2 separate regions of the Homo sapiens genome follow, and region 1 is linked to region 2. Evidence: fine-mapped expression QTL. A gene starts in region 2. The other region holds a variant in brackets. All regions are shown on one strand. Distances are from middle to middle.

What was found. PIP is the estimated chance that this variant, and not a neighbour inherited with it, causes the effect.
Region 1: its variant is fine-mapped to the expression of SIPA1L3 in aorta (GTEx, PIP above 0.99). The same link has a PIP of 0.9 or more in atrial appendage.

What each region holds. Positions count from the first base shown.
Region 1 is chr19:38,169,699-38,175,070 of GRCh38, forward strand. All of the region lies in intron 15 of SIPA1L3 (signal induced proliferation associated 1 like 3), which reads left to right. Among named protein-coding and RNA genes, the nearest start is that of SNORD152, 9.3 kb to the left of the region's middle. RefSeq lists an enhancer at 742-1,303. The variant A/T (reference allele first, on the strand shown) is at 2,543.
Region 2 is chr19:37,904,788-37,910,159 of GRCh38, forward strand. It overlaps SIPA1L3 (signal induced proliferation associated 1 like 3), which reads left to right and starts at 2,421. Exons shown (of 22, transcript NM_015073.3): 1 at 2,421-2,571. It overlaps WDR87 (WD repeat domain 87), which reads right to left and starts at 1,807. Exons shown (of 6, transcript NM_001291088.2): 1 at 1,712-1,807. RefSeq lists a silencer at 2,533-2,772 and an enhancer at 3,073-3,132.

The sequences.
Region 1 (5,372 bases), 260 kb after region 2:
TATCCCCCCTGGTCCAAGACCTGTTACAGGCAGTGCTGGGGACACAGCGGTGACTGGGGGAGCCCCAGTCCTGCCTGACTGACGCATTCCCAGACAGAGACAGCCCAGAGGGGTCAGGTCAAGATGGGCGAGGCCCAGGCAGAGGGGTCAGGGTCAGGGTGGGGGGCCCAGGCTAAGGGGTCAGGGCTGGGATACAAGGCAGCTGCGAAGAGGGGTCAGGGTAAGATGAGGGGCCCAGGTAGAGGGGCCAGGGTGAGATGAGGGGCCCAGGTAGAGGGGCCAGGGTAAGATGAGGGGCCCAGGTAGAGGGGCCAGGGTGGGCTGGAGGGGGGCCAGGCAGAGGGGTTGGGGCCATGATGGAGGGGTACAGGGATGTGAGAGCCCAAAGGGGGCCCCCCTAACCCAGTTGTGAGAGGGGCCAGCCCAGTTGTGGGAGGGGCTTTCCTGGAGAAAGAGTCTGAGCTAGCCAGGGAAGTCAGGAGGGAAAAGCAGTCCAGACAGAGAATGAGACGGACTCCCACTGTCCATCTCACCCCACCTCACTCCATTGGCCTCCCACAGTCTTCCCATTTCAGTAGGCACAAGTTCCCTGGATGGTCACAGAGCCACCTGCTTGGGGCCAGACCTTGGTTCAAGTGGCCACACGTGCCTCTGCCTCCCATGGCGGCCACACTGCACTGTGCACCGGGCAGCCCAGCAGCCCCCCTCATGTGCTGTCGTCAGAACGTGCCCCTGGGCTGGAGTGACAGCCTGCTCCCCAGCCTCTGCTCCTGGAAGGCAGGCACCTTTGAACAGGCCCAGCATGAGCACTCATTGACTGCCCTATGTCTACCTCCACAGCACTCTGTGGCATAGAACTTGGTATTTATTCACACAGCGAGCGCCTGCTGTGCACCGGGGCCTCTGCAGGGAGCTGGAACAGGCAGACCAGATCCCCACCGTCCTGGTACGGACGGAGGCCCATGGGAAACAGCTAGTGAATAATGCCAAAAGTCATGAATGAATTGTGCCAGGGGACAGCCTGCAGAGACGGGTGGGGTCTGAGGGTGGATGGGATGCAGAGCTGGAGGAGGTGTCTAATCTAGCCTAGGGCCAGCGATAATGTTCCTGAACGAGGGTCACATCTGCCAAGGATGAGGGGGACAGGGAGGAGGGAGCGGGTGAAGGAGGAGAGGGGTTCAGTGGGGCTGGAGAGACATTCATCTGGGATGCAGTTATACAGGTATTTGCTCTGTTTTTGAAATTGTGTGTATATATGCAACATATATATAGACACACACACTTTCTGGGCCTCAATATATGTTGTGAACCTCAGTATGTATATATACAACTATGTATATATACACACATATGTTTTTTTTTAAGTCTGTTGAATTTCTCATTCAGAAGAATGTATATATGACTATTTACCATTAACAAAAAAACAGAAGGGAAAGATGAGGCGTGGAGAAAGTATGTCTATGAATTAGAGTTGCGTGTGCAAAGTCCCTGTGGTAGGGAGGAGGGTGGTATCGTCAGGCCACTGAACACAGGCCCTTGGGCTCAAGTATAGAAATTGTGGCTGGGCACAGTGGCTCATGCCTGTAATCCCAGCACTTTGGGAGGCCAAGGCAGGAGCATCACTTGAGGCCAGGAGTTTGAGACCAGCCTGGGCAACATAGACCCATCTCTATCCCCCTACCAAAACTTTTTTTTTTTTTTTTTTTTTTTTGAGATGGAGTTTCGCTCTTGTTGCCCAGGCTGCAGTGCAATGGCACAGTCTCAGCTCACTGCAACCTCTGCCTCCCAGGTTCAAGCGATTCTCCTGCCTCAGCCTCCCGAGTAGCTGGGATTACAGGCACCTGCCACCACGCCCGGCTAATTTTTGTATTTATAGTAGAGACAGGGTTTCACCATGTTGGCCAGGCTGGTCTCGAACTCCTGACCTCGGGTGACCCACCCACCTTGGCCTCCCAAAGTGCTGAGATTACAGGCATGAGCCACCATGCCTGGCCAAAAATTTTTTTAAATTAGCTGGGTATGGCAGTAGGCTCCTGCAGTCCCAGCTACTCAAGAGGCTGAGGTGAGAGGATCACTTGAGCCTGGAAGTTCGAGACAGCAGTGTGCTGTGATTGCACCACTGCACTCCATCCTGGGTAACTGATTGACACCCTGTTGATCAATCAATCACTCCATCCTGGGTGACAGAGCAAGGCCCTGGAGGTAGGTAGGTAGGTAGGCAGGTAGGGCAGCCAATGGGAGGTTGGGGAAATCAGCAGTGGCCAGAACATTCAGGGCCCTACCAGCTCCATTATGGAGTTTGGATCTCATCTTAAGAGCAGCCAGGGTAATGCGGGTGGATTTGTGTTCCAAAATATGGTGCTGGCAGCGAGACAGGAGGCAAAGTCTCTGAGGGGGCTGAGGCTTGGATCTGCATGGGAGGACGTGGGCCTGAGCTGGAGGACAAAGCAACTGTGGATGTGGCAGCAGGCGGCATTGCCAGGAAGTAAGCTGGGAGGGAGATGCAGGCCCAGGGCAGAGCCAGCAAGCCATGTGAGAGTCC[A/T]GGGTGGCTGCCACGTGTCTGGAGGCTGCCGTGGCCTGGGAGCACCTGAGGTGCTTGTGAGAAGAGGAGGCAGAGTGGGGCAGCCAGCGGGGACTGATTCTTCCAGTCACTGACCTTTGCAGCCCCTACTCTGTGCCAGGTGTCGCAGCATCCTTCCCTTATGGAGCTGTCATTCTCCTGGAGACAGGACAAGACAGACAGACAGCCGAACCACCGTGGAGTGTGCCAGGAGGTGATAAGTGCTGGGGAGGAAAGGCAAAAACAGCGGGTCTCTGGGAAGGCTTCTCAGGAGGTGATGCGTTGTAGGAAGCCAGGGTGAGATCCAGGCAGTGGAAACAGTAGATGACTAGACCCTGAGGGTGAACTTACTCTCAATGCTCCAGAAATGGTCAGGTGGCCAGAGGGGCTGAAGCAGGTGGGATGGGGGGAGAGTGGCAGGAGGTCAGCATAGTGAGGTGGCAGGAGCCTGGTTCTAGCGGGCATATTGACCAAAGTCAGATGCTGGGATTTGGTTCCAAGGGACATGGGAGCCATGGGAGGCATTTGAGCACATCATCTGACTTAATGTTTTTAAAAAGATTACTGTGGGCTGGACGTAGTGGCTCACACCTGTAATCCCAGCACTTTGGGAGGCTAAGGCAGGTGGATCACTTGAGCCCAGGAGTTCAAGACCAGCCTGAGCAACATGGCAAAACCCCATGTCTACAAAAAATTAGCTGGGTGTGGTGGCACACGCATGTTGTCCCAGCTACTTGGGAGGCTGAGGTTGGAGGATTGCTTGACCCCGGGAAGTGGAGGCTGCAGTGAGCCGAGATCACATCACTGCACTCAGCCTGGGTGACAAAGTAAGACCTTATCTCAAAAAATGATAATAATAAAATGTAAAAATGAAAAAATAGAAAAGATCACTGTGGGCTACTCTGGAGAGGACGGACTATCTTGGGCAGGGGGAGGATGGTGGTCAGCATTCAAAGGCTGCCAGGAGAGGGATGGGTCCTGACACGCCCAAGCGGGGAGCCCCCTACCCTCCCTTCCCCGGGCTGCGGCCCTTGCCGTGGAAGCAGGTGCAGCCTGTAGCAGCTTGTGCCCATCGATGACCTCACAGATGCTCCCTCCAGACATTCGTCATGGGAGCCCAGCTGCCAGGCATGCTGCCAGGCGCCAGTGCCTGCCATGGGCACCGCAGTGGGCTGAGTGATCCTGGGCGGGCAGCCACCTGGCCCTCGCCCTCTCCTGAGGCAGCACGCACTCCAGAGCTTTCTGGGCTTCCAGAGCAATTTGTCAGAGCTGTTAGGAGCAGTCATAGGCTCTCGGCTCCACATGGAGCTGACGCAGCCGGGCGTTCCCAGGCAGGCAGGAAGCACGTGGCCTTGCTTCCCCAGGCTGCGCCAGGAGTCCCTGGGATGCCCTTCTGGGGACACAGCCCTGAAAGGTAATCTGAGGGCCTGAAGATCCACCGGGGCCCACCCTGCCTGTGAGTGTTGGGAGGCTGGGGTCACCTGAGACAGAGACCTCCTCGGAGAGTCACAGCTTGGGAAGAGGAAGCGAGGCCGTCTCCTGGAACTCAAGGGAGTGCGGAAGCCAGGCAGAGATCTGCAGGGCGGGGAGCAGTGCAAAGGTCCCAAGGTAGCAGTGTTTCTGATGTGTTTGAGGAACAGCTTCCGCATGGCTGGAGCAGAGTGAAGGAGAGGGAGTGTGGAGGAGCTGGGGGCAGAGAAGAGAGGGGGGCAGATGGGGGGCCCTGTCGGGAGGGCTCTGGGTCTTACCCAGAGTGAGGTGGAACCCTGAGAGAGTCCTGATCTGATTCACATGTTCCCAGGATCTCTCTGGCTGTGTGCTGAGGCTGGGGAAGGATGCAGGAGGAAGAGGGAGCCAGGAGGAGGCCGCTCTGACAATACAGGTGGCAGTGGTTGGTGGAGGTAGCGAGCAGTGGCTTGATTGGTATCTCTGTTGAATCTCTTGCCTAGACCCTCTCTGTGTCTGCTTCCTGAAGACCCGTCGCTTCTGCCCCACAGGCCACAGGGGCAATGTGGCTGCTTACGGCTCCTACACTGGAGCACAATTCCAGCCGCATGCAGGGATGAATTGGTTCTCCAGCCCATGACACACGTCAGGGAGAGAAAGCAAGATTGGTCCAGGGTGAAGGCCAAGTGGCTGGGGGCCCTCGGGGTATGTGGGTGAGCAGTGTGACTTCAGGGCTCTTCCTCTGACTGCCTATGTCTACATCACAGCTCCACCTCTTACCCCAACTGCGTGATCTCTCTCAGGCCCCTTAGGTGCTCTGAGGCTCAATGTCCTCATCTGTAAAATGGGGGTAATAGGATCTGTCAACCAGACACGGTGGCTCGCCTCTCATCCCAGCACTTTGGGAGGCCGAGGCGGGCGGATCACCTGAGGTCAGGAGTTTGAGACCAGCCTGGCCAACATGATGAAACCCCGCCTCTACTAAAAATACAAAAATTAGCCAGGTGTGGTGGCGGGTGCCAGTAGTCCCAGAGACTCGAGAGGCTGAGGCGAGAGAATCACTTGATTGCAGTGAGCTGAGATGGCACCACTGGACTCCAGCCTGGGTGACAGAACTAGACTCTTTCTCAAAAAAAAAAAAAAGGATCCTCCATCTAAAGTTGTGAGGGCGAACTGAGACCATGAGTTTAAAGCACTTATCACAGGACTGGAGACATAGCTGGGCTCAAGTGTATCAGCTGCTGCTGTGTTTTATTCTCATGTATTATGTATTGATATTTATCGTTAACAGTTGTTGTCACTGGGAGTACAGAATGGTGGTTAAAATATCGTCTCTCAAACCAGACTACCTATGTCTACATCCTGG
Region 2 (5,372 bases):
CACCGTGTGGCTGAACTATCATTTATTTATTCAAATTTCTATTAATGGACATTCGGTAGTTTCCAACCTTTTGCTACTGCAGCTAATGCCGCAAATGAGTATCTTTGTTAGTGCCTCATAACATTTTAATTTTATTTGATTTTAATTAACTTAAATTGTAGAACTGAGGCCAGGCATGGTGGCTCACGCCTGTAATCCCAGCATTTTGGGAGGCCGAGGCTGGCAGATCACGTCAGGAGATCGAGACCATCCTGGCTAACATGGTGAAACCCAGTCTCTACTAAAAATACAAAAATTAGCTGGGTGTGATGGCGCCTGCCTGTAATCCCAGCTACTTGGGAGGCTGAGGCAGGAGAGTCACTTGAACCAGGGAGTCAGAGGTTGCAGGGAGCCGAGGTGGCGCCACTGCACTCCAGCCTGGCGACAGAGTGGGACTCCGTCTCCAAAAAAAAAAAAAAAAAAAGTAGAACTGAAGCAATGAAAACATTTTTCCATTAACCTAACTTGGAATAATATTTTGGATATATTTGGGTTAAATAAAATATTAAAATTAATTTCATAGCTGGGTGAGATGGCTCACGCCTATAATCCCAGCACTTTGCGAGGCTGAGGTAGGAACATGTCTTGAGGCCAGGAGTTCAATACCAGCCTGGGCAACATAGCAAGAAAAAAAAAAGTAAATAATAATGATAAATAAAATGAATTTTACCTGTTTATGTCAAAATTAAAATTGCATATGTGGCTTGCATTACACATAAAAACACACACATATATAATTTTTTTTTTTTTTAAAGAGACAGGGTTCTGCTTTGTCGCCCAAGCTGGAGGGCAGTGGTGCAATCATGGTTCACTGCAGTCTCAAACTCCTGGGCTTAAGCGATACTCAGCCTCTTAAATAGCTGGGACTATGGCCACATGCCACCACGCCTAGCTAGTTTTTTAGTTTTAGTAGAGATAGGGTCTTGCTATGTTACCCGGCCAGTCTCCAACTCCTGGCCTTAAGTGATCCTCCTGCCTCGGTGGCTCAAAGTGCAGGGTATATTTCTCTTAGCTAGTATTGCTCTACATTGTTGTAGTCTGGTGGTGGCCTGATATCCCTACTGGACTGAAAACTCCCTGAAGGTAGGAGTCCAGTCTGTCTGGATTTCTCTTGTGTCTCCATAATCACCCAACCTGACATGGAATAGGTGGTTAATCCATTTTTGTTGAATGAGTGGAAAAATGTGCTCTCCCAGGAAGAAACATATGCTTCCCAGCTTCAAGTGTTAGTGAACATCTTCCTAGAAGGCAGGCTGAGGCGGAAAGGGTATTGACTCCGGCTTCTCCACCAGAGGACCTTGCAATTCCAGTCAATTCCCTCGGTAACTCTTATGGAGGAGTGGCAATATACCTTAAAAAAGGAGTGTGTGTTGCGGGGTATTCCGCTGCTTGGTTATGTCACCAGGTGGATTAAATTTGGACAAAATTTCCCAAGGTGTAGGTACTCTACAAACACTAGTTACCCTCAGGAATGTGCGATCAACAAAAGAATGCAAGATAACAAGGCCCCTAGGCAGCCCCTGGGTCTTGTGGCTCCCGTCGAAGGCAGAGCTCTGGAGCCGCCTACGCCGGGGACAGGCGACTACACCTGGGGCCCCTCACCCTCGGGCCTCCTGCACGTGGCAGGGAAGGCAGGGCGTCTCTATCTCAAAGCATTGGCTGCGCCTGTTACCTGCGACAGGATTCCCGACAAGGGACGGGTACGGCGTGTGCACTCAGGAGCTCCTAGAGCTAGGGGCAGCAACTAAGAAGCTACCTGGCGGATGTTGCGAGAGGACTCCGCCCACAGAACGGTTGGCCCCCAACCCCGCAGCCGGCGGACTTCCCGAGGCCAGGGGTCTGAACGCGCGTGCGCATGGGCGCGCGCCCGGCGCGAGAACGCGCGCGCGCTCTCGAAAGAAAAAAAAAAAAAATCCTCTCCGCGGGGTCCCGCGGCAATTTAGGCCGGGGTCTGCCGACGACCGCGCGTGCGCGGGCGTGCATCTACGCCCTCCTCCACCGCCCCCTCCGCTGGGGGTCTAGCGCACTGCTCCGCTTCCCCCGTTTCCCCCGGGCTAGCGTCCTAGGGGTAAGTGACTCGAGCCTGGCAGAGAGTGAGGGAGAGGTTCCGCCGAATGAAGGGAGGAGGTAGACGGGGCCAGGAGAAAGGAGAAACCGCCCCGGCGGGGCGAAGAGCGCGGCTCTCGAGCTGTAGTCTGCAGGAGACACACCTCCCTCCCTCACGCCCCTCGGGGCTGCGGAAGTGCTCTACAGACTGGAGCTGCACGAAGGCGACCAGCGGACTACCGTTCCTAGGAGGCAGCGCGGCGGTGCGCCTACGGCTCCCGGCAGCCCCCGCGCGCCATTCTCTTTTTGAGTTCGCGGCCGGCTAGGGCGAAACTACAGTTCCCAGGAGGACTCGCGCGAAGCGGCTTGGAAGTGGGCAGCCTGGAAGTCACTCGGGCCACCGGAGCTGGCGGCGTCTCCAGCGAGCGGCGCGGAGCTGGACGCCGCGATCGTGGGGCCCGCGAGGCGGGCAGCCGGGGCGTCCAGGTACGTGGCTCCGGGTGCAGGATCGGCCTCGCGCAAGGGTGGCGGGGAATCGGTGGCTGCCCGGACCCCGAGGGTCAGCGCGGGCGGACGGCCGGGTGTGGGTACTGGCCGTGGGGGGCGGCGGCGCCGGGACTCGCGCCCTCCGGACCCAGCCGGACTCGTGCCCGCATGGCTCAACTTTCCAGGCGTGCACCCCGGCGCTGTGGTGAAGAGCTTGGAGGCGGGGAGCGGTGGATTCGCGTCCCGGCTGTGCCACTCGGGAGCCGCGATCTGGGAAAACCGCGCCGAACCTCAATTTCCCCTGCAGTAAAACGGAGTAGGAGAGCATCTTGGCGGAGACTCTGTTGAGATAATATAATAAAACATTTGGCACATAGGAGGCACTTACTACGTATTTGGGTTATTGTTAGCTCTCCGAAAAATGAGGTGAAGATGTTATCGATTGCATAGGGTGAGGATTAGTTGAGCGTGTGCATGTAAAGAGGTGAGTCCTTAGTTAGCACCCAATGCAGGCTAGCTGCTGTTAACCGAGATTATTTTGTTAAGAGCGTTGGTTTGGAAGGCAGAGAGACCCCAGGTTCAAATTTGAACATTTACCAGCTGTGTGACTTTGGGCAACTGGCTTCACCTCTCTGTGCCTTGGTTTCCCTATCTATAAAATGGGGATTTAAATAGCAACCACTTCGTCGAGTTGTTTTCAGGATGCAGTGAGAATACCATGTGTAAAGTGCTTAGCACAGCAGCTGGCATATAACGCTCAGTAAATGGTACCATTTATTCAGCGTTTTCCTAGTGGCCCAGAGACCCTCTGAGGGTGGGGCTCTGGCCGTAGTATTGGTCACCCCCGAGGGCCAGATTCAGAACTGGTCCAGTTGACTTCCCTTCCTACTACCTCAGGTTCCTCATTTACAAAATGGGATAATAACAAGATCACTCTCAAAGGGTTGTAAGGATTTGCTGAGATTGTATTTCTAGTCCAGCGCCATCTCTCACTAAGTAGCAGCTCTTATGTATTATAATTGTTCTTCAATATTCTCCATCTGGCCCAGAGACTGCCTGACTGTGGGCTGTGACATGACAGCCCTGAGCTCCCCCACACATTTGCTCCCATCCTCAGTGTCCCATCTGTGGAATGGTAGTCATAGGACTTTTGTGCCAGGATTGTTTGGATGGTTCCAGGAGATAATTCATGTTTAGTGCTTTGCACAAGGCCCGGCACACAGTAAGTGCTTATTAAATGATTAAATGTATCTTGCTGTTTTTTTTTTTAATAGGCCCTTTTTGCTTCTGTTTGTACCTACATGGCAGAGTGAGCACAAAGTTAGTGTTTTTTTATCTTCCCCCTCCCTCCCAAATTTTACTTACCAAAGATTAAATTATGGAACACACTATAGTAGAAAGGCCTAAGAAGAAATGGGTCTGACCTGCCATCAGCAGTCCCCTGCTCACACACCCCTCCCCACAGAGCCAGTATGTTCACTCCAGTGCTTTAATTATTGTCCTGGTGCTGCCAGCTTTTGCCTTTGTGTCCCAAAGCCACTGAGTCCCCTGCACTCCAGCTCCAGATGTGGAGCCTGTGCTTCTTTGATGCTGTGGCTCAAAGAAGTGGCTGTTTCTTGGGCACCATAAACTCAGCATGTCCAACCTGAACTCCTTCTCCTCCTGGAACCAGTAGTCACCATCTTGGCAAATGTGCCAGCATTGACCTGGTTGCCTAAGCCAGAAACCTGGGAGTTGCTCTTCTTCCCCAGCCTTCCCATATCCAGTCAACTAGCAAGAAGGACGAAGCTGCCATTTCATAGAAACACCATTTCATTGGCCCATATTGGTCTCCCATCTGATGGGCACTGAAAGTTCCCCTCAGCTTGAGACGGAGTCTTGCTCCATAGCCCAGGCTGGAGTGCAGTGGCACAATCTCAGCTCACTGAAGCCTCCGTCTCCCGGGTTCAAGCAATTCTCCTGCCTCAGCCTCCTGAGTAGCTGGGATTACAGGTGCCCGCCACCACACGTGGTTAGTTTTTTTTTTTTTAGTAGAGATGGGGTTTTCACCATGTTGGCCAGGCTGGTCTTGAACTCCTGACCTCAGGTGATCTACCCATTTTGGCCTCCCAAAGTGCTGGGATTGTAGGGCATGAACCACCGCGCCTGGCTGTGACAAGGTTAAGTCAAGTCATTAGGGATTAACATACGTAAACCTATGTAACATATGTATTAATAAGGGCAAGAAGATGTTATAGACTTGGCTAGACAGCAGTGGCTGTGGATGTGGCATGAAAGCCTGGCTTTCAGGGGACCCAGTTCTGTGATTTTAGCCTGGTAAAGATCGGCTGAGTTGTTAATTTCTTTCAGAAAAGTTAGATGGTGTCAGCGGCTTAGAATATCCCGTGTGGGAGGGTGGCCATCCTGGGCATTTCAGGAGGCAGCACACATACCACACACCCAAGAAGAGGCTGGGAAGGGAATTTATTAGCGCTCCCCTTAGGTTGAGTTTATTGTCAGAAACCTGTCATTGTGATTTCATTTGATGATAGAAACCGGTGGCCTCAATCACATTTGTGATGGCCAACAAATTTACCTAAGCATTTTGCTAACCTGAAGAAGTAAAGCAGTGGCTTAAAAAAAAAAAAAAAAAAGCAGCACGTGGCTTTTTAGCAGTCAGTGTAGAATGAATGATCTAAGAGTTAAATGTGAGTCTGTGTTTCAGACATTGCAGTTGTTAGGTGGTAAATCAAAAGTGGAATTTAGAATGTGCAGTGATTGGTGCCTCATTTTTTTGCTGTAAAATATATTTTACTGATATA